4 separate regions of the Homo sapiens genome follow, and all the other regions are linked to region 3. The links come from fine-mapping of genetic effects on gene expression. A gene starts in region 3. Each other region holds a variant in brackets. All regions are shown on one strand. Distances are between the middles of the regions.

Region 1 (5,849 bases), 180 kb before region 3:
TATTAAGAAGACTTAAGACTTTCAGATCAAATACTCACTGAAATTTATAAGTTTCCAACTTTGTAATTTTATTTTGTATGCATCCAGCCCTGCCTTTGGCTAGCTTTTAAGGAATTGAAACATCTTTTACATGGCAATCTGTGGGGAAGAAAGGAAACGTTAAAGCACTGCAAAATAGTGTAGTGCTTAAACTTACATGCACGCTTTTCTATCTAAAGCCATTGTTCAGGACTACAAAATTTACCATGTGGGTGGAAATAGAATTTTAGAAATATGCAGTGAAAAAACAGGATTTTTTTTTATGTTTTTAAAAAAAAACAAAGATGGGTCTTCCCAAAAGACCTTTTTGGATTCTATTTTAGAGTTAATATTCTTTTGTTGTTGTTGCTGTTGTTGTTGCTATTTTTAGATAAGGACTAGTTTTTGTAAGATGTTCCTCTTAGCAAATATGATACTGTATCATCTTTGATGATACTTAGTATATGCCAGTGACTATTCACACTCAGTTTTTGACACAATTTATATTCTGGGGAATAATTGGATTGGTTCACACATAATTAGGCTGAAGCTTAATTACAACAATGATCTCTGTAAGTGTGGCCTTTGTAATTTTATCTTTAATCAGGAATAAACCTGACCCTGGTGGAAAAAATGTACAAATAAAAAGTTCCATAATTTTGCATCACAAGTAACTCGTTACTGTTTTAGAAAATTTTCTTCAAGTAATTTTCCTTAATTTTATAATGTAGATTTTAAATTACAATAAAATTGAACTATTGAAGGTGTTTTGAAGTTTTTAAATTAATGCTTAACGTTAATACTTTTTGCTTTAAATTGGAGACTTAAATCCATTTTTAAAGGAAAATGTTAAGCAACCCATAAGTTAAATTGTCAAATATTATCAAAGTTAAAATATTACCAAATAGTTTTTGCAACCAAGTGAGACTATAGAAATTTTCTGACTCCCAGATGTAGATATCAGCTCTTTATAAAGCTAGTTGAGTGGGATTTCTCCTCTGCAAAGCTATTAAGGTTTTGTTAAACCCTAGTAGCTTTATGGGTGCTGTCTAAATGTCTAAGCAGTTTTTCCAAAAATGATTTACACACTTAATATCAGTAAACATATACTTAATGCCAAAATAATTTTGGAAGAGCTGCTCTATTATGGACTTGGGTTTACTTTTATCAGGCTTTTAAACAAATTCAAAGTATGAATGTTTGTTGTGTTCCTCTTTTCTATTTTCAGGTCACGCACGTTGAACCATGGGAGAAAGGAAGCAGGAAAACAGCGGGCCAGACAGGGATGTGCGGAGGGGTAAGTAGAAGTACGTGCATTTTTCAGTTTTTCTGTGTCTAATAACTAAGTTTATATTTAGAGAACTAGAGGCCTGTCAATTATACACTTGAGTGACAATTTTTTTAATCCAAATTCAAGTGTTCAGTGAAATAGGGTTAGAAAAGTGTTACTTTTTAATGCTCCTTAGTTCTGGATTATGGATTGTTATTGATACCTAACAGGATTAATCAATTGGTGTTAAGAGTCCGTTAATTATTTTACTACTTTTTCTTAACTCGTTTCCCCTAAAGGTTCGAGGTGTTGGAACAGGAGGAATTGTTTCTACAGCATTTTGCCTGTTATACAAATTATTTACCCTGAAGTTAACTCGAAAGCAAGTGATGGGTCTTATAACACACACAGACTCTCCATATATTAGAGCGCTTGGATTTATGTATATAAGGTGAGCGTACATTTATGTACATTTCCAGTAAATATCTCATTTTAATTCACATGTGTTTAATAATAGTCTTTTGTAATTCTAGATATACACAGCCCCCTACAGATCTGTGGGACTGGTTTGAATCCTTCCTTGATGATGAAGAGGTATGTCAACAAGGGTAATAATTTGTTTTCTTCTGATTACTCTCATATTTTTATTATCTTTTATTTATTGGTGGTTTAATGTCTTCAAGAACTTCCTGTAGTTAAATTTATTTCAGTGAGATACTTTTGGAATTAATGTCCTTTTACTGAGACCTGATGGCTTTTATGTATTTTAGGGTAAATTTCTGAAGTTTTATTTTCTTGTTTTAAAATTGTTTAAATGTGTTTGGTAACTATTGGAAAATTTTCTCTTCTTAATTATGTTCTGTGTATTGTATTGATCCTGAATTGTATAGTTAATAGTGACTTTTCAAGATGGGGCATGCTCAAGATCGAACAGATAATAAAAGATATGCACATAGAATACTAATTGTAGCTTTTTTTTCTTCTGGAACATTTCAGTTCTTCACCCTCTAGCTTCTTCCAAATATCAGTATTCCCACTTGCATAGAAGTGCAGAATTGAAGAGTTGGGTGTTACATAAATAGGCTAAGTGTTTGGATGACTTGTTCAAGGTGACAAAATTTTAATTCCAGTTTTCTGACTCCTAGTACACCACACACACCTTTAAAAAAGAAATTTTTTAAATTGTAATTCGAGTCTCCCTAATTTGAAATCTGAAATACTAAGTTAGATTTAAATCGTGTATGCATTGGCTGGGCGTGGTGGCTCACATTGTAATCCCAACACTTCGAGAGTTCAAGACCAGCCTGAGCAATATAGTGAGACCTCATCTCTACAAAAAAAAGTTTAAAAATTAGCTGAGCATAGAGGTATGCATCTTAGTCCCACCTACTTGGGAGGCTGGGGTGGGAGGATCACTTGAGCCCAGGAGACAGAATTTGCTGTGAGCCAAGATCATTGCCACTGCATTCCAGCCTGGGTAACACAGTAAGACCCTTTCTCAAAACAAAACAAAATATCATATATGCATTAATTTACTTGCATGGTGAAGTCCAACATGTCAAAAATGAAATGATGAGCTGTATTGTCCCTATGTCTACCCAGTCTACTACTTTGTGTTTTAAGGTTCATAAGACTTTTTGAGTGCTATGTGTCAGTAGTCTATTTACAGAGTTCATCCAAAGAATTTATTGAATTAAAGGATGGTTCTAATGGAAATCTATTGTGTTTTGTTATTACATGCACACCTAAAAAAAAAAAAAATCTCATTTAGACATGGAGAATTTTTATTTTTCTCTTTTTTTTTTTTTTTTTTTTTGCCTGTTAACTGAGTTACTTCACTCAGAAGAAGCAAAACGTGTTTTAAATCACAATCTTTAAGGTCTTTTTAT[C/T]TTTAGATCAGTTTTTCAGACTGAAGTGCTTCTCCCTTCTGTCTTTAAAAAAGCATGTTCCTCTTCATAATTGGTGTTGTATTGGTTTTGTTTCTGGATGCCTCTATTTTATGTTTTTTATTGTGTTTACAAATCTGAGGTCCTCTATTTAAGCTAACTTATTGTTTTCTTCCTTAGATATCTGCAGCGATTATATTTGGAAATACTGTATATCTGAACACTTAAATGTGTGTGAGTGCAAGCAGTTTTACCTTTAGCTCTTGTTTTCCTGTTTAGATAACAAATCTCACTTTCCTTGTGTGCTTGCACTATAGGTTTGGGACTGACAATAGCTGACTAACATGTCCTGAGCTGTGAGAGGGCATAGCAAGAAGGCCTTCATGCGGTAATGACCCTTTTCAGAGACAATGGTCATCATGGATTATGCGTTTCCAATTATTTGTTCATTTATTTATTTTCTACATAACTAAATTAGAAACCTCACTGCTTCATGGCAGTTGGTTTGCTATTGCTTCCAGTTTTATTAGGGCTTCATTTTATATTAGAGCTGTTAAAAGATAACCTTTAGACAGGAATTATCTAAAGTAGATCATATGTAGCTAGGTTATGGTGCAAGGTATATGATGTGTGCAAATATGTCCACAGAAATAAATACATAGTAGGTATGTGGAATGTAAATTTAAGTCAATCGTTCCGCATAGTTTAGAAATGTAAGGGGCTTTTTCATATTGTTAACTGAGTGAGATCAGTTCCCTTTATGCCTGTGAGGCTGCAGGGTTTGTTCTCACTTGCATGCACACACTAAGCCCAAATATTTCTGTTCATTCATTGTCAGATCAGGATATGAAAATAAAATTTTTCTGTTAGTTTTTTTTGTATTGAGATTCCAAAGATGGTAATATTTTTATAATATTCATGTATATATGGAAATACTTTTTTTGACGGCTAGGGTATCTTTTGTGTTTCTGTAGGACCTAGATGTGAAGGCTGGTGGAGGCTGTGTAATGACCATTGGAGAAATGCTACGATCTTTTCTCACAAAACTGGAGTGGTTTTCTACCTTGTTTCCAAGAATTCCAGTTCCAGTTCAAAAGAATATTGATCAACAGATTAAAACCCGACCTAGAAAAATCAAGAAAGATGGGAAGGAAGGTGCTGAGGAAATAGACAGACATGTTGAACGCAGACGTTCAAGGTAATGTCACTCTTGAATTATGCTTATTTTTCATATATGCTTTATACAAAATTAATGGTTCTGAGAAATAGCAAGTTCTTAGGAATTTGTTTTTACTGTTCATTTTATTAGTTTGTCACTTTTACCCCCCAAAGATTATTTTCTTCCTTTCAGGGCTTTTTCTATAAAATTATGCATCTGTAAATGAGAACAATAAAATTTTTTGCTTTAATGATTCTTGACATGGCCTTAAGCTTGAGGACATGAATAAATAATGCTGTTGAAAGTTTTACTGTGAAAAGAATTGCATATGTTTTATTCATTGAAATTTTCTTTCTCCCTCCGCCTTCCTTAGGTCTCCAAGGAGATCTCTGAGTCCACGGAGGTCCCCAAGAAGGTCAAGAAGTAGAAGTCATCATCGGGAGGGCCATGGGTCTTCTAGTTTTGACAGAGAATTAGAAAGAGAGAAAGAACGCCAGCGACTAGAGCGTGAAGCCAAAGAAAGGGAGAAAGAACGGCGAAGATCCCGAAGTATTGACCGGGGGTTAGAACGCAGGCGCAGCAGAAGTAGGGAAAGGCATAGAAGTCGCAGTCGAAGTCGTGATAGGAAAGGGGATAGAAGGGACAGGGATCGAGAAAGAGAGAAAGAAAATGAGAGAGGTAGAAGACGAGATCGTGACTATGATAAGGAAAGAGGAAATGAACGAGAAAAAGAGAGAGAGCGATCAAGAGAAAGGTCCAAGGAACAGAGAAGTAGGGGAGAGGTAGAAGAGAAGAAACATAAAGAAGACAAAGATGATAGGCGGCACAGAGATGACAAAAGAGATTCCAAGAAAGAGAAAAAACACAGTAGAAGCAGAAGCAGAGAAAGGAAACACAGAAGTAGGAGTCGAAGTAGAAATGCAGGGAAACGAAGTAGAAGTAGAAGCAAAGAGAAATCAAGTAAACATAAAAATGAAAGTAAAGAAAAATCAAATAAACGAAGTCGAAGTGGCAGTCAAGGAAGAACTGACAGTGTTGAAAAATCAAAAAAACGGGAACATAGTCCCAGCAAAGAAAAATCTAGAAAGCGTAGTAGAAGCAAAGAACGTTCCCACAAACGAGATCACAGTGATAGTAAGGACCAGTCAGACAAACATGATCGTCGAAGGAGCCAAAGTATAGAACAAGAGAGCCAAGAAAAACAGCATAAAAACAAAGATGAGACTGTGTGAAAATATTTTGTAAAAGTGGATCACATTGAATCCTATAAATGATTAAATCTGCTTTTTTCCCCCACGTTGAGATTGTGCAGTAGTTCGCACTCCTCAAGCTCTCCCTGTAGGCTGCATTTTCATTTCCTCTTTCGTGTAGGGAAGTGCCTTTGTAATTCCATTTATTGCATTGGTGTTTTCACCCAATTGTTAAGTTTGATACATGATGCACAGATTGTTCTTGCATTTTTATTGTTTGTTTTTGAAATGTACAGTCTGTACATATGTCCTGAAAATGTTTTAAT
Region 2 (5,849 bases), 46 kb before region 3:
GGCCAAGGAGGGTGGATGGCTTGAGACTAGGAGTTCAAGGTCAGCCAGGGCAACATGGCAAAACCTCATCTCAAAAACAAACAAACAAACAAACAAACAAACAAACAGTTCCTACCAGGGGAAGAAACTATGCTATACGTCAGTAATGGGTCACGTAGCTTTGGTCCTGGAAGTACAAGCTGATTACATCCAACAACTCCAGCAAAGTGGGCTTTGCCGGGTGTCTGTGGGACTAAAGGCTGAGGGAGCACGTGAAGGTGATTTTAGTTGCACATGGCCACCAGGTGGCGTCAGAAAGAAGCAACTGCAATGGACATTGTTCAGGAGCCTTCCTGTGGCCCACCTGCAGCTTCCTCCCTCCTCCTCAGAAATCCCAACTCCTCCAAAGGAATTCGAATTAATAACAGTTCTGAACAAAGCTCTTGCTAAGCTCCTGGGATACAGTCATAGCCCCCAGGGAAAGTTGTTCATTCTTAGTATGGAAGGCACTGTGCCCGAGATATCCTGGCATAAATGAGGCAGATTGCCCAGGGCTAGGGTTTGAGCCCAAGGCATTGCTGGGCAAACACATGCTCGCCGCGCTGTGCCCTGGCCTGCTGTTGGCGGAGAAGGGATGGGGCTGCGGGTTTGTGGGGCTGGGGCTGAGAAGCCAGGCTCTTTCCCTCCTCTTGGAAAAACATGCTGTCCTCTTGAGTCACATATTTTCTCACACCTCATTTTCTGTCTCCACCCTTCTCCTCTGGGGCATTTGAACATCTGCTCTCCAAAGTGGGAAACTTGGATCTCACTCAAGTGCATGCAGTCCAACACAGGACTTTTTCTGCTTTTAAACTCCTTTGTGTACTCAAATCTTCTGGCCAAACATAATTCCTCTGGAGAAGACAGTTTTTCAACAAGACAAAGCAGCTAAAGTACACACTTAAATCCAAAGTTTTGCATCAGAAATAACATAAAGGGATAAGCATATTTTACATTTTATACATATGTAATTTATCCACTTATATATAAACAATTTACAAATATCCTGAAAACAGTATGTACCTCAGCAAGCTTCATAAAGGACAAGTCCCATCAGAGAGAGATTTAATCTTCTAACAGAAAGAATATATAGTCCTCCCTTCAATCAATAATTCCTCAGGGATTATGTAAGTTACAAGATTTTAATTCATAAGTCATGTGTATCTTCTCATCACTCCCCAGCAGTGGATTCACTGTGAGATTTGATTTTACACTTGGTTGTGCTTGTCTTTCCAGCTTGTCTATCATAAAAAAGTATTATTTAGTCTGGAACATTGGTCCCTGTCTTGGTACTTAATGTACTTCTGTAGGGTCTAGACTAGGAATTTAGAAGAGAGAAATTTAGTACCTTGAGTGCTTAATAAAAATGGTTCTTTAATGTCAAAATACTTTCATTATACTTAGTAAAACCTTTAAAAATCCAAAATTAGACTTTAATTCAATAAATAAAAATAGTAGGCCTGGGATGACTCAGTGAGTAAGCTTCATGAGTGCCCCTTGGATTAAAGGGCAGCTCAAAGCTGATGACTGACATGGTGGTTTAATGACCCACACACAATGACACATGACCATTTTTAGCACGAGCTTCATGCAGTTTCTTTTTTCAGGGGTGGACACTCATTAGAACTCTTAAGGCAGGTGCCCATTCCCACAATGGAATGCTTTCTAACAGGAAGCCTCAGTCTTTCAGACCCTGTCATCTGCTTCTATTAGAATCCATTACGTACATATAACAGTGGTTGCTAAACACCTGCTGCCTCCCTGACTCTTGACCTTCCAAAGGTCAATGAGCCGAGCTTTGGCCGGAGTCCACAGTGAGCTTAGAGGTAACATCTCTCGCTACCTGAAAGAAGCTTCAAATAAATGATACTGAATCGACACAGATTAATAGTTGCACCAATGGGTGTTTCAAAAACAAAGGATTTCTCCTGAGGATTTTACATGATTTACAGCTTGTTAGCTCTGGAAGATTTCGTCCTTAGGAATGGGAAGAAATCAGCCCTGAGAAGAGGGATGAGGCTTGTTCCTGGGACTGGGGGGCTCAGGTGAAACCCAACAGAGAAGACTTTTGCTCATCATAAGGAGAGAGTAGGGATGGTGGGAGCTGTTTGTTATACAGGATAAGAATCCCCCATGTGGGCAATGATCAAAAGCCTACAGGACCACCCTCCGTGGGCTGTAACCATGATTCTTAACCAAGGGGGCTTATCGGAATCACCTGGGGAGATTTAAAAGCAATATTCCTACCAGAGCCCCACCGCTGGCGATGCTGAGACAGTAGGTGGGATGGAGGCATGTGCATGATTGTAAAATCTCCCATGGTGATTTTGATGGTCTCCCCAGTTGAGGACCACTGCTAGAGGATCTGTAGGGTGCGAGGGAGGCTGGGCTCTGTGCCCAGGCCTGAGATCTGTGACTCTATAACTCAGCCAGTGGCCTCAGTTAGTTGCCGCCCACTCTCACTGGAGTTACTATGCCAGGACTGACTCCAATCCACCCTGGGAATGTAGCCACAAGAAGCCCTCACCATTCAAGGAGCCTGCGACAGAAGGCACAGCTCGGACTGGGTGCCGTCATCTCTGCACAATCCTGCCTTCTTGGAGTGCCGTTGGGATCCTCCTGCGCCACAAAGCACACAGATGGAGATGTGATAGAGGATGTGACTCACGCCGCGGCTGCACACGCACAGCCCAGCAAGCAGCTGAGGTCCGGCTGAACTTGCCACCTCAGGCAGAGAGACTCGCCAAACCTCTCCTCCAGTTGGGGAAAGGGAGGCGCAGGGGGACAGGAGGGAAAGAAGAAAGAGCCCATCCTTAGTTCTGATGTGTCACTCAGTCGGGGCTGCGCCTCTAATGGCCTGGGCTGAAGAATGGAAGTTTC[C/T]ACCCTGGCTTGCTTCCTTCCTCCTCTAAACAGATTTTAAAATCTGGTGTACAGATGACAGAATACTCTCCCCTTTTTATCTTTCCCTTAGTTTCAAATTACTCCAAGCTTCGCCAGATAATGAACAGATTTAGGAACATAATTTTTAGATCTATTAATCTGACCGCTGGCTAGTAGAGCTCTAAAAGCCTTTCTAAATAAATATATTCAACTATGAATTAAAACAGGGTTTAGGGACTGTCTGGGGGCCTAAATGATTGGTTATATGTCCCTCTTTAACACAAAACAATTACTCCACTGACCTGTGAGGGCTGTTACCACCCACTGTGTATTTTTGACTAAGGTCTTACCCTTTATGTAAGTAAAAAATAAATGTACTTTTCCCATCATTATAAACAATGGCAGAAGCATCATTGTACACATAGCTTTTTCCACATCTTGGATTACTTCCTGAGGAAATGTCTGGGCCAAAGGTTGCGAACATGTTTGTGTGATGACCCATATTGCCAAATTGCTTTCCACAAAAGTTGTACAGATTTCACAGCCACCAACAGTGTGGACGGCTCAGTTTGACCACACCTTCCTCTGCATCAGGAATTATCACTTGAAAATGTTTCTGTTAATTGAAGGGAGGGGTGTGTCACCTTTTGTGTTAATTTGCATTTCCTCTGTGACTAAAGGAAATAAGTCTGTTCCTATATGCTGATTTATTGGTTGTATTTCCTACCTGTGACTTTTTTTTTTTTTTTTGAGACGGAGTCTCACTCTGTTGCCCAGGCTGGAGTGCAGTGGCCTAATCTCAGCTCCCGGGTTCAAGCAATTCTTCTGGCTCAGCCCCCCAAGTAGCTGGGATTACAGGTGCCCACCACTACCCCCAGCTAATTTTTTGTATTTTTAGTGGAGACAGTTTCACCATGTTGGCCGGGCTGGTCTTGAGCTCCTGACCTCATGATTCGCCCACCTCGGCCTCCCAAAGTACTGGGATTACTTTAATTGTGAGTAATTGTGTGAGCCACTGCGCCCGGCCTTACTTGTGACTTTTTAGCTCATGTCCTTTGTCCATTAATTTTCTTGGAGGGTTTCAGTGTTTTCCTGTTACCATTTGCTAGTTGTTCATGATGTGCCAGGTGCTTCCCTTATAGTCTCCTTAATACTTCCAACCATCCTGGCACGTTGTCGCCATTTTAATGGTGAGTGATCTGAGGCCTGGCGGATTTAAGCAATTTGGCAAGGTTGCATCATGAGTAAGTGGGAAAGCTGGGATTTTAACTTTTACCTATCTGACTGGTATGCTGTGTTCTTTTTTTTTTTTTTTTTTTTTTGAGATGGAGTTTCTCTGTGTTGCCCAGGCTGGAGTGCAGTGGCGCAATCTTGGCTCACTGCAACCTCCACCTCCCTCCCAATTTCAAGTGATTCTCCCACCTCAGCCTCCCTTCCAAGTAGCTGGGACTACAGGAACACACCACCCCACCCAGCTAATTTTGGTATGTCTTAGTAGAAACAGAGTTTCACCATGTTGGTCAGGCTGGTCTCGAACTCCTGACCTCAAGTGATCCACCCGCCTTGGCCTACCAAAGTGCTGGGATTACAGGCGCGAGCCACTGCACCCGGCCAGTATGCTTGTGTTCTTAACCACAGTTCTGCTCCTTGGGGAATTTGTCACAGCATTTGATATAATGAAGTTCTCAACAATGAACATTATTTGCCCTTAATATTTTCTCAGTTGTCTATCTACATTTTTTTTAATTGATGGTGGTTTCAGTTTTGTAAACAACTTAAAATATCAATATTGTCAAGGAGGAGGTGCGAGTGGCCAAGAAACATATGAAAATAGATTGAGTTTCAAAAATAGCAAGATTAAAATAATGAGATATCAGTTTTCACTTATGCATTTGGCAAAAGTTGGAAAAAGAAAAAAATGTCTGGGGTAGGCTCAAACTGGGGACACCAACATTCCCACGCACTGCCCTCAGCCTATAAACCCCCATGGACTTCCTAAAGGCCAGATTATCAGAATTTTCAGCATGTACCATTTGAACCATTAACTGCAATCCTAGGGTTTTATTCTAAGGAAATGATCAACTACAAATGTTTGCATGTCAAATGATGTTACCTGAAGCAGTGTTTATGATATCAAAGAACTGGAAAAAACTAAATCTCCATCAATAAGAGATTGTCTAAATGTGTCAGAGTACATTAGTATAATGAAATATAGTACAGTCATCAAAAATGAAGCGATAGTTTATTCTAAGTGATGTGGAGAGCTGCTCAAAATATAACATTAAATGAAAAGCATAAAACAATATATATAGTAAAATCCTATTTTGGCCAAAATGTATATATAGGAGAAAAAAAGACTGGAAGGATATACACTAAAATATTAGCAATGGGCCAGGCGCAGTGGCTCATGCCTGTAATCCCAGCACTTTGGGAGGCTGAGGTGGGTGGATCACCTGAGGTCGGGAGTTCTAGACCAGTGTGGGCAACGTGGTGAAACCTCCTCTCTACTAAAAATACAAAAATTAGCTGCACGTGGTGGCACATGCCTGTAATCCCAGCTACTCAGGAGGCTGAGGCAGGAGAATCACTTGAACCCAGGAGGCAGAGGTTGCAGTGAGCTGGGATCGCACCATTGCACTCCAGCCTGGACAACAAAGCGAGACTGTCTCAAAAAAAAAAAATTAGATTGATTTTCCTCTCAGTGGAAGTTTCTTCTTTATACTTTTCTTTATTTTCTCATTTCTCTTGTAATAAGCATGTATCAGTTTTATAATTTAAAAAAAAAGGGTTTTTTCATCCATTTTTCCCATGGTTTTTTTTTTTTAATTTTTATATTTTATCATTGCTGAGCTTACAGGGTTACTCCTCCACTGACATTTAAGGCAGATTTACATTAGCAGAATGCAGGGAGGTGCCCCTCCACCTGAGTTGGAGACCCGGGCATCACCTAT
Region 3 (5,849 bases):
ATCAGGGGCTGTGTTCTGTTGTGCTCACTACTATATTCCCTGTACCTAGAACAGCTCCTGACACACAGCAGAAGTTTAATACATACTTGCTGAATACTGTAATGAATAAGCTGAGAGCTGAGGATGAAAAGAAGCCAACCATTTAAAGAGCTTGGGGAAAATCTAGGCAGGGAGGAGGTCCTGAGAGAACCTTGAGGCTTAGTCCATTCTAGGGCATGAAGAATGCCCTGTGTACTTGGAGGAAAGTGAGGCAGCAGGAGGAAAAAATAGGAGAGAAGAGAGAAATTGGCAGGGGCAAGATGGCTTAAGGCCTTTTCCCCCACAGGAAGTTTGGATTTTATTTTAAATTAAATGGGAAATCACTAAAGGTTTACGAGTACGAGAGTGACATAATCTGACTTATGCCATTTAAAAGATATTTTTCAATTTGAGTGATTAGGAAGATGGAAGTAACTAATATCAGAGATAGAAATCACATATGTAAGAGAAGATTTGCAGGGGGTAAATAATTCTGGACATGTTGAATGTAATGTTGTACTTCTGGCTGGGTGAGGGGGCTCATGCCTATAATCTCAGCACTTTGGGAGGCCAAGGCAGGAGGATCCTTTGAGCCCAGGAGTTCAAGACCAGCCTGGGCAACATAGTGAGACCTTTTCTCTACTGAAAAAATAAAAATAGCCAGACATAGTGTCAAGCTCCTGTGGTCCCAGCTACTGGGGTGTAGGGGAGGGGTGAGATCGGAGGATCACTTGGCCCTGGGAGGTTGAGGCTGCTGTGCAGTGATCTCCAGCCTGGGTGACAGAGGGAGGTCCTGTCTCTCTCTCTATATATATAAAATTTCCTTTGTGGCTTTCACAGTATCCATACTTTAAAAGAATTTATAATTAAGAAGGAATTAATACCTACCTCTGAAACAGTACAGCCAACCAATTCCATTGTTATTTACAAGAACCTGATATTAAAGATGGTTGTAACGATAATAGGTATCAAGTATGGAGCAGTTTCTATGTGTCAGGCCCTATGTCAACCACTTAACAACCTTACCTCACAGAAGCATCATAGCAACCCTTATTAGAAGAGGCTTTATTATGTTTTACAGGTGGGGAAACTAAGACTAAAGAAGATAACTCATTCAAGGTCAATCAGCAAGTAAGTAGCAGAATTGGAACTCAAACCCAGGTCTAGTTTGATGATAAAGCTGTTCCTTTAAGCAATTTGCCATAACATGCACCTAATGGGAAATGTTGCTTGGATCACTGGTTATGGCCATCATTCACGGAGATACTGAACCCGGAGTTTTCTTTAACATAGCCTTTACCCTGTAGAAACATTTAAACTTCATTTCAGAAGAGAAATATCTATTTGAAAAATAATCTAAGTAAATTCATCAGATGCTTTACCCCAGAGAGACTCTGGTCTTGGTATTTTGGTTTTTGTTGTTGTTTGAGACGGAGTCTCGCTCTGTCGCCGAGGCTGGAGTGCAGTGGCGCGATCTCGGCTCACTGCAACCTCCGCCTCCTGGGTTCAAGCAATTCTCCTGCCTCAGCCTCCCGAATAGCTGGGATTGCAGGCGCCCACCACCAGGCACGGCTAATTTTTGTATTTTTAGTAGAGACGGGGTTTCACCATTTTGACCAGGCTGGTCTCCAACTCAGGTGATCCCCCCGCCTCGGCCTCCCAAAGTTGCTGGTATTACAGATGTGAACCACCGCGCCCGGCCGGTATTTTGTGAAGAACAAACTATAAGGTGACTACTATTTTGGGGTCACCTTGACATGGAGGAGAGGTGAATGGAAATAAAACTTATTCTTCCCAGTGTCTTTAGAATGTAGGCGCTGAAACTGAGTGAAACTGAGTAAAACTGCCACCCAATTTTCCTGGGAACCAGCGATTCTGTAGTCAACAGAAGTTTGCTTTTCCAACAGCTGGAAACGCCAGGGTTGGGCACAGCCTCAAGAACTGAGGCTGCCTTGTTCAGACTTTCACACGGTCCCTCTGTTCCTTCCACAGAGGCCTCTTTTTCTTCTATATCCCGCATCTGCCGCTTGGGACACTCATTCTGTAGCGCAGCACCAAGTCTTCCAAAAAGGCGGCGCTGGTTTTGCGCTCCTTTTTTAAAGGGATCTAGGCCAGCCTCTATCTGAACTCTGTACGATGTTTTTTGTTTGTTTGTTTTGTTTTGTTTTTGAGATGGAATTTCGCTCTTGTTGCCCAGGCTGGAGTGCAATGGTGCGATCTCCACTCACGGCAACCTCCGCCTCCCGGATTCAAGCGATTCTCCTGCCTCAGCCTCCTGAGTAGCTGGGATTAAAGGCATGCGCCACCACTCCCAGCTAATTTTGTATTTTTAGTAGAGACGGGGTTTCTCCATGTTGGTCAGGCTGGTCTCGAACTCCCGACCTCAGGTGATCCGCCCGCCTCGGCCTCCCAAAGTGCTGGGATTATAGCCGTCCGTCACAGCGCCCGGCCAACTCTAGACAATATTTATTGCTCTACTTTTTAGTGTCTGAAGAAGAAAGAAGAGGACAGGAAAGAAACTTCAGTCTGAGGGTTGAGGACACGTCCCGGAGCAGAGGAGGACCAAGCTCCCAAGCCCCCTGTCACCTTGACACGCAGACGGTTCCCCAGGACTGCGAAGAGGGGGGCAACCAGCGCCCCGCCCCGCCCCGCTGCGCCGCCCGCCATTGGCCGGTCCGAAAGACGCGGGGCGTTGTCGGTTTGAATGAGAGCGCCTGGAGCCGGGGCGCAGGCGCAGAGGAGGGCGGTGTTGAGACCGGCGGAGCGGCGGGACCCCTAGGTGGCGGAGGGACGCTCCGGGAAAGCGAGGGGCGCTACGAGCTCTGGCCCACGTGACCTGCCGGGGGCGGGAGCAGGGGGCGCGCCGGCCTCCTGCGGTGCCCCTGCCTTGGGGAGGGGCCGTGACCACCCGTCTGTCGCCCGAGGCGGCCGCCGCTGCACCTTCACCGCGTACCCGGGACCCGCCCGCCCGCGGGAGGTGAGCGCTTCCGCGACGCGGGTTCTGAGGCGTTTGAGGGGCTCTCGGAGGGAGGTGACAGGGAGGGGTGCGTGTGCGTGCGTGTGGGGCTTCTGTGTCCAGAGGTCTGGGGGTGACGTCCTTTGTTTTGGGCAGGAGGCGGGCTGGGGGCTTGCGGGACCTGTGGGCGCTGCGGGGACGCGGCGTCGATGCTCAAGAAACCAGAAACTCGGCTTGAGGAGTTGCTGCTTTTTTGTCGGAAGGTCTTCAAATGAGAGTAAAGCGTTAAGAGCCTCACTCCTGAGTCTTTTTTTTTTTTTAAGATAAAAACTATACTAGAGTCCAGCGACTTCTTACCACTCTGAATGTGAGTAACAAATTGTGAATCAAAGCCCGAATCCCCGTGGAATTCATTCCGAGGCTGATTGCAATCACTTGGAGTCGGGCGCGTCCTACCTAAACCAGGCAGTTTATGGCAAATACCTGCCTTGACCGTGCTTAAATTAGTGAACTTTTGGGCACCAACTGGTCGATTTACCATAGAAATTGGTAGTTGCTGCAAAAAGAGTAAGTAAACATAAAACGTTAAGAAAACTCTTTCCTGAAATCTATAGAATACCTTCGAATAAAAAAAAATCTGTAATTTCCTTGTTTTAATAGTAACCAGTTAGAGCATTTGAACTAGTAGCATTTGAACTCTGTTAAAGAAAACGAGTAAGGATGGAAATTTTATTGGCCTTAATGCATAATTTAACCACACCGTAGAATTAAACGAAGTAGGTTCTTGGCTTTCCTTTCTATCGGGTTTGCATTGGAGCGTTCGTGGGGTGTGTTGGAAGTCAGCAGGACCAACAGAGCTGAGTTTTCAAGCTGCCACTTTAGAAGGGTGTACCGAAGATTTCTGGCCTGATAATAGCCGGTGTGATTGCTTCTGATAAATACCACTTTTGATTGGGTTCTCACTATTCAGGAGCAGCTTTAGTTGATTGTTTAGAAGTGAATAAACAACATTAAAAAGGGTAGATCACTGTTGGTTGACATGGTGTGTGTAAGGAGAGGGGGGCCTCAGGGATTAGGGGTGGTCTCACACCTACTTCTCTTTACAACTACCACGGAGTCGTTTTCGCAAGCTATTTCCCAGGCTATTACTTATAATTTAAGTATTGGAGCGGTTTCAAAGTAAAAAGTTGTGTGATGTTGTTGTAGAGGCATGTCTCCAAAATCCTCTCTGGCCAGATAAGCAGTTTAATTGTATTTTCTTACATTCTTAAATCAGATATTCGGTGTTACAAACATATTTTAATATAGATCTGAGACTTGCTTACTAGACTAATTAAAACAGTGATAAGATATAGTAGTTTTAAAAATGACCTTTTCATAAACATAAAATATTTCTAAGATCTATCTTTAGAAATTTGTAATTAGTTCTCTGGAATTTTAAAATGGAAAATCTGACATAGATTTAGGTTATTCTAAATTTATTTGAATATATATTAAATATGTCTATTTTATAATAACAGTTACTGTTATTACTACAGCACTATGTTGAGTACTTTTGTTATGTATCAGAGCCAGGTGCTGGGTCAGGTGCTTTATAAATCATGTCTGTAATTATCACAGCACATTTTAGGTAAGTGTCATTATGCCCACACCAACTGAGAGTTTAGCGTAAGATCATATAACTAATAAGTCACTGTGCCGAGATTCAAATCATGGCCTGATCCCAAAGCACATGCTGTATTGCTTCTGTGTGTCTGTTTAAATCTCTGCTGTGTCTCTGGATTCCATTTGTAGGGACAAGTTCTACTTTAAAGATGCCTTTAGGTGCTGTGTTTTGTTGTAGCTTCGCAGAAATATTTCAATCTTTCTGTTGGAACTATCTTGCTTCATTATTTTATAAATCATCTTATAAATCACATTATATTTTCAATATCTTCTTAATCATCTTTATACAAAACATAAGTGAAGAGTAAGACTTTTCTGAGTTTCTTACATAAATATGAATAGAATCTTTACTGTGGAGAAGAAATGTATTACAGTCCGGTTTTCTCACTATTGTAGGATTCTTTGGCCTCGTCATAATTCCTGTCTTCTTCCCAGGGAAGAAATTAAAGTTTGTTGGGCCTCTCTTATGTGCAAAGCAATGTCGTTGGTGTTGTGAGATGACAAGAAAATGCTTCCTATTCAGTAGTTGTTTCTGGAGTTTTTGTAGTATTTTTCTTTTCTCCCCATTCCTGCCTTATATGTTGCTGCTGGTTTATCTTCCTAGCAGAGATCCAACTTGGCTATTCCTTTGTGGGGAAAAAATACCAGCAAGGTTCCCCATTGTGTAAATAAAAGGCTGAGGCCGGGTACGGTGGCTCACGCCTGTAATCCCAGCACTTTGGGAGGCCGAGGTGGGCGGATCACGAGGTCAGGAGTTCAACACCAGCCTGACCAACGTGGTGAAACCCCGTCTGTACTAAAAATACAATAGTTAGCCCAGTGTGGTGGCACACGCCTGTAATCCAAGCTACTCAGGAGGCTGAGGCAGGGAGGCGGAGGTTGCAGTGAGCCGAGATCGCGCCACTGCACTCCAGCCCGGGTGACAGATCAAGACTCCATCTCAAAAAAAAAGGGGGGGCTGAATATGAATATATGCTTCTGCCACATGTTCAGAGTCCCTCACAGTTTGTTACTGTTCTACCTTCTCAGCCTTCTCTTTCACTACTCTGAATACTGTGTGCTTATCCTGGAACACATTCTGTGCATTTCTACCCTCCCTTTTTCTTGAGCCATTCTTTTCCCTTGACTGGAATGCCTTTCCTTCATTTGGCTAATAAGATCTACCCATCCTTCAAGGTGCTGTACAAAATTCCTTGCTTCCAAAAAGTTT
Region 4 (5,849 bases), 24 kb before region 3:
TTGTGGGGTCTTTCCTTTGTTCCCAACACATAAAGCTCAGAAACACGCTAGTGCTGGAGAGCTGGTCAAAATGGACTATGGTCTTTCTAGACATCTCAACTATATGACGGATATGAAACCTGCAGTGTCCAATTCTCCAATCTGAATTGACAGAACTGGAAAAAATCAGATACCTGACCTCGAACCCCCATACCAGAGGGAGAAGAGCCTGATATCCATCTGCTCCTGCTAACCACGGGGCACTGAGAACTGGACACAATGAGGATGTTCTCCTGCAAGCAGAACAAGGAACCCCGACACTTCCCAATACCACGGGGGTGTAGGTTTCTCTCAGACCTAGAGAGCATCCCAGTCATGGCCAGGTGGGCTGTTGGCTCAGGTTTGGATGTAGGGGGTTCTGCTCAAACTCCCCAGGCATTCAGTTGAAAGAGAGGGGAGCTGAAGTGTGAAAATGGAAATGGAAATTAAAAAAAAGAGAGAGAGAGAAAAATCACTTCCAAGGTTAGGTTACAGAAAAAGAGAGAGAATGGAAATGGAAACAGGCAGTGTGGTTCAGTCCAGGACACCTTCATATAAGGCTCAAAGGAAAGATCATGCACTCTAGGCAAAGTGCCCAAGAACTAAAATGTATATTTTGATTATTAAGATGGATTTACCTTACTATTGGGCCTCAAACATCAATGAGATCCTGAGCCTCAGCATGTTGAGAAGTTGGTGGGGGAGTGTGAGAAGTTGGCGTAAGGGAAAGGGGGAATAGCATAAATTAAGCATTAACAAAGTTTTGTACCAAATGATTACCAAGATAACAAGCTTGAAATCCATTACTAACGATCTTAATTCCATTGGACTTAGCATGAATAACTAAGGGCATAACGTACGTTAAGACACGAGGCCAGGCCTCTGGGGGAAATTAGGCAATGGAAAGGCGAAGATAAGGTTGCTGCCCTCCAGAGCCTTAGAATCTAGTGGAGGAAGCAGATGCTTCTGCTATTAAGATCCAAAGCAGGCTGAGATACACACTCTGATGGAACGACTAAACAAGTGTGGAAAAGGTTGTGACTTAGGAGACCTGAAAAGTTATGTGGCCCAAGGGGGAATTGAAGGAGGCCATGAAAACAAGCAGGTCTTTGGCAAGTCAAGATGGGATGTGCCACGCAAGGCAGGAACTCAGAGAGCTCAGGGCCTGGGAAGAGGTTCTGGACCAGCCAGGTAACTGCAGATGACTCCTGAAGGAAGGCAGCTAAGTTTAAGTGAGGAGAGCCAAATTCCGGCTTGCGGAATTTGGATTTTATTCTCTTATATGTTTTTGTCAGTGTAGCCTGTGATGCTTCTCGTGAGGACACTGAGAGTCGGAGTGGCCACGTCACTCATCCAGGGTGACCCAGGGTGCTGAATGAAACTTTGGAACTAGAACCAAGCTCTATTCACCCTCCAAAAACCCACACTGAAAGAGATAAGCAGTGGTCCCAATTAATGTGTTTACAGGAGACTGTTTCATTTACCTGGATTTGTTGTGAAGGTTCAGTGATTTTCCCTTTCTGCTCTTGATGTTGTTTTTCAACACAGTTTGACTCAGGCGTGGTTTCTAGACTATCTTGCACAAGAGTGGGTTTATCTCTCGACTTGGAAGAAAAGCTGGCTTGTTTAGCTATTGCAAGTGGTTTATTAATTATCTTATTTTTAGGAATTTTCACTTTGGGAGCAATCTTAGAGAAATCAGGGAGCTGGTAATGAACTTGACCTTGGCCGTATTTGAACGTGTTGCCTGAATTTGCTTTTTCAGTCTGCTGTTTCTGGGGTGACTGCCCTTGATAACTTTTTTGTTTATCACCTGGACCCTTGGTTTTAGTTAGAACATTCACATTTTCTTGATGGCTGCTATCTCCAGCAGCCACTGGCCCTTCTAAATCAGAGGTATTTTCCTCTGTCGTGGTGGCAGAACCAGGCTTATTGCTGTTTTCACCATCCCTTTTCGGGTTGAGTTGGTCAGTGAGTTCTGGGGTTTGTTCTTTTGGCCAAGAATTCTTATTATAACATGAAATAATACTTTTAATAATAGCTTCCTCTTCAAAACTGTCGGCATTTGAGATCTCTGGGAGGGTTTCACAATCAATGCCTTGACCTCTTAAGAATGGCTCTTTGGAAAGATGATGAAGTAAAATATCAGAAATGCTTGACTTAGAAGCGTCTCCTTCATTTGCTGGAATATGAAGAGCTGCAGTGCATTGTTTCTCTTTCTCGTCTTTTTTGTTGGCAGCATTTTCAGTAATTTTACCCAGGGGTATGGTCACAGCTGTATTTCCACAAGTCTCA[C/T]TATGCATAGCCTTCTCTTGAGGGTCATCTGCTATGAAAATAATTTGATTTAAGACTTCAAGGCCATCCTTTTTTGAGGTAAAACTGTAATCATTGCCTATCTTAATCTGAGAGAGGTCCCCATCATAAGGCAAATCCTCCTGCTTATAAGTCGTGTGTTCTGAAAAATCAGCCTCATCCATGTGTGTGCAGCCCGATCGCTCTCGTCCTCTGCCTCCTGAGCTGGCTGCTGTCAGTTGTAACAATAGCTCTGGTTCTCACTGACTGTCTTCACTGTGTGCTATTCTGTGTGAAATGAGAACAGCCTCATTGTTAAATATATTGGAATAATGTATACAACTATGCCAGAACAAAGTGGATGTTTTTTTAATTTGAAAAATTCAGTTACAAACAGGAAGGCAGGAAGCTCAACCACAAGCTGACCCAACCTCAATCCACACTATGTTAACACAATCAGTAGAATAACAGCAAGGAATGGGGGAAAAAAAAAAAGAGAGTGTTACATTTTTCATTTATTAAATTTTGAGGATGACATTAGTCTACAGTTAATGGCCAAATACTTATCAACCTCCCTTAGGAGATAGTATTTGGAGTTTATTCTCCCAAAGTAGGAACTTGGGATGCAAGTAAAGGATTGATTTTTTTTCTTTTTTCTTTTTTTTTTTTTGAGACGGAGTCTCGCTCTGTCGCCCAGGCTGGAGTGCGGTGACACAATCTCGGCTCACTGCAAGCTCCACCTCCCAGGTTCACCCCATTCTCCTGCCTCAGCCTCCCGAGCAGCCGGGACTACAGGTGCCCGCCACCACGCCCAGCTAATTTTTTGTATTTTTAGTAGAGATGGGGTTTCACCATATTAGCCAGGATGGTCTTCATCTCCTGACCTCGTGATCCACCCGCCTTGGCCTCCCAAAGTGCTGGGATTACAGGCGTGAGCCACCGCGCCCGGCCTGATTTTTTTTTTAACTACCAGAGCCACGCCTTGTCCACGTGTCACTGACAGTCTTCTAAGCCATGTGGCGATGGAAGCTGGCCTAGCTCACATGTAACACCCACCTTCTCCATTCTGGTGCCTTTTCACCTGTCCCTCCAGACCTTCTGGTCCCCTTCTCCTGACTTTCCCTTGCATGTCTGAGAAGGGCAGAGAAGGACTTACAGAAATATGACCAAGGGGCCGGGCACGGTGCCTCACACCTGTAATCCCAGCACTTTGGGAGGCTGAGGCAAGCGGATCACCTGAGGTCAGGAGTTCGAGACCAGCCTGGCCAACATGGCGAAACCCCCATCTGTACTAAAAATACAAAAAGTTAGTCAGGTGTAGTGGCAAGCACCTGTAGTCCCAGCTACTTGGGAGGCTGAGGCAGGAGCATCGCTTGAACCTGGGAGGCAGAGGTTGCAGTGAGCCGAGATCAAGCCACTGCACTCCAGCCTAGGTGACAGAGAGAGACCCCGTCTCAAAAAAAGAAAAAAAAAGAAATGTGACCAAGGGACAAATAGGCTTTCAAACACCTGGAGGCCAGTCTGCAGCCAAATGTCCCTTTTCTAATTTGGACTCAGGCAGGAACCTAGTCAGAGAGGCTGCCTTCCCTGAACAACCCCTGCCAGCCACCACAGCCCAGGCGGCGGTCTGGTGGTACCAGACTCTTTGGGGATATTCCTGAAAATGGCTGGAGTAAAACCAGCTGCCATTTGGTATGAGTCCTATTTTCTCTTTTTTAAACAAAATTTAAAGCACCCATTCAGATATCTCTTCCTGATTTGTGAACTTTTGGGATGATTCCTCAGAAGTAGTAATCTCAAGTTTTAAGTAGAGTAACTGAGATTCCCTCTCCCCTGGAGCACCAGCCCAGGGTGACCACAGCTGCTGGCAGCCTCCCTTGCCCATACAATGATTATGTTGGGTGAGCAGATCTCTGAGGTTCTCTCTCCAACCAAATTTTTATGAGTCTATAAGCTGGTGATTTATTAGGTAACCTCAAAAGCTAAAATCATATGTTTGACCAAAATAAATTTTTTTGAACTAAGTCGTCCAAGAAAAAAAGGAGTACAAACTAAATGTGGTAAAAGCATCTGTGAGACATTGTACAAAAATCTTAATTTATAGACACATGCCAATGTTAGAGAACCCAAATTAAACAGATGCTCTGTTTAGAGAGGTGGAGAGAAAGGAGAATATCACTGCAGGATTATTTTAAATCATTTAAAGAGGGTAACATTTAGTATAAAGTGAGGCATGTCTTCATGAGAAGAATTACAGGCTATTCTAATCCAAGTTGAAGAACAAGGGAAAAGGCTTCCCAAGAAAGTGAAAGGCACAGTGGGAAAGCAGAAGTGGAGAGGCATGGATCTGAATACTCTGGCTTCTCTGCTTTCTAGCTGTGTGTCATCTGGCAAGTTATTTAACTCTTGTGAGTCTCGGTTGCCTTTTCTGAGAAATAGGACTAGCAATACCTGAAATAAGGCACTAAAGTACTCGGCATAGGGCTTGGCACAGAGTAAGAATTCCATACATTGTTGTTGAAAAATGAAAAAACAAAACCAGTCTCAGTATTGGAATACTGAAGAATGCCCAGGTCCAGAGGTGAGGCACTCCTTATCCGTGGGGATATTTAAAGGATAAAGGAAGGAATTGCATATGTAAAACATAATCTCGTCCAAGCAAGGTGGCTCATGCCTGTAATCCCAGCACTTTGGGCGGCCGAGGCAGGTGGATCACGAGGTCAAGAGATGGAGGCCATCCTGGCCAACATGGTGAAACCCCGTCTCTACTAAAAATACAAAAAATTAGCTGGGCGTGGTGGCGCACACCTGTAGTCCCAGCTAGTCAGGAGGCTGAGGCAGGAGAATCACTTGAACCCGGGAGGCAGAGGTTGCAGTGAGCCAAGATCGCGCCACTGCACTCCAGCCTGGCGATAGAGTGAAACTCCGTCTCAAAACAAAAAAGACATAATCTCTACAAGAACTTTAAGACAATTTTAAAACTCAATCTGTAAATAAATATATTTGAAGGTAAAAAAAAAAATCAGGCTGGATGAGGTGGCTCATGCCTGTAATCCCAGCACTTTGGGAGGCTGAGGCAGGTGGATCACTTGAGCTCAGTAGTTCAAGACCAGCCTGGCCAATGTGGCAAAACCCATTTCTACTAAAAATACAAAAATTAGTTGGGCATGGTGGTGCATCCCTATAGTCCCAGCTACTTGGGAGGCTGAGGCAGGAGAATCACTTGAACCCGGGAGGCAGAGGTTGCAGTGAGCCGAGATCATGCCGCTGTACTCCAGCCTGAGCAACAGCAAGACTCTGTCTCAAAAAAATAAAAAATAATAAATAAATAAATAAATCACTAAGCAAGTTTAAACAAAATATTGTCTAATTTTTTAGAACAAAAAAAAACAGAGTATCTTTTTTTTTTTTTTTTTAGACAAGGTCTCACTCTATCACCCAGGCTGGAGTGTAGTGACAACACCATGGCTCAACTGATCTTCCTCCCTTAGCCTCCTGAGTAGCTGGGACTACAGGCGCACACCACCACACCTGACTAA

Direction of the effects. Alleles are on the strand shown, and positions count from the first base shown. SD is a standard deviation of normalised expression in the study named. Not every link is listed here.
In carriers of allele T in region 1, the expression in pituitary of the gene that starts at base 2,752 in region 3 tends to be lower than with C alone (large effect, 1.2 SD a copy in GTEx).
In carriers of allele T in region 4, the expression in lung of the gene that starts at base 2,752 in region 3 tends to be lower than with C alone (moderate effect, 0.55 SD a copy in GTEx).

Evidence for each region.
Region 1: its variant is fine-mapped to the expression of GPSM2 in pituitary (GTEx, PIP above 0.99).
Region 2: its variant is fine-mapped to the expression of GPSM2 in sun-exposed skin (GTEx, PIP above 0.99).
Region 4: its variant is fine-mapped to the expression of GPSM2 in lung (TOPMed, PIP above 0.99).

Annotation. Positions count from the first base shown.
Region 1 is chr1:108,694,456-108,700,304 of GRCh38, forward strand. It overlaps PRPF38B (pre-mRNA processing factor 38B), which reads left to right. Exons shown (of 6, transcript NM_018061.4): 2 at 1,247-1,315; 3 at 1,588-1,739; 4 at 1,822-1,882; 5 at 4,149-4,372; 6 at 4,707-5,849. The coding sequence ends at 5,565. Among named protein-coding and RNA genes, the nearest start is that of PRPF38B, 5.1 kb to the left of the region's middle. The variant C/T (reference allele first, on the strand shown) is at 3,178.
Region 2 is chr1:108,828,014-108,833,862 of GRCh38, forward strand. AKNAD1 (AKNA domain containing 1) reads right to left here. Exons shown (of 16, transcript NM_152763.5): 10 at 2,546-2,637. All of the region lies in intron 2 of LOC105378891 (a long non-coding RNA gene), which reads left to right. Among named protein-coding and RNA genes, the nearest start is that of AKNAD1, 26 kb to the right of the region's middle. The variant C/T (reference allele first, on the strand shown) is at 2,899.
Region 3 is chr1:108,874,234-108,880,082 of GRCh38, forward strand. It overlaps GPSM2 (G protein signaling modulator 2), which reads left to right and starts at 2,752. Exons shown (of 15, transcript NM_013296.5): 1 at 2,752-2,995. RefSeq lists an enhancer at 2,408-2,507 and silencers at 2,588-2,987, 3,078-3,147.
Region 4 is chr1:108,850,170-108,856,018 of GRCh38, forward strand. It overlaps AKNAD1 (AKNA domain containing 1), which reads right to left. Exons shown (of 16, transcript NM_152763.5): 2 at 1,503-2,598. The coding sequence starts at 2,495. Among named protein-coding and RNA genes, the nearest start is that of AKNAD1, 4.0 kb to the right of the region's middle. The variant C/T (reference allele first, on the strand shown) is at 2,314.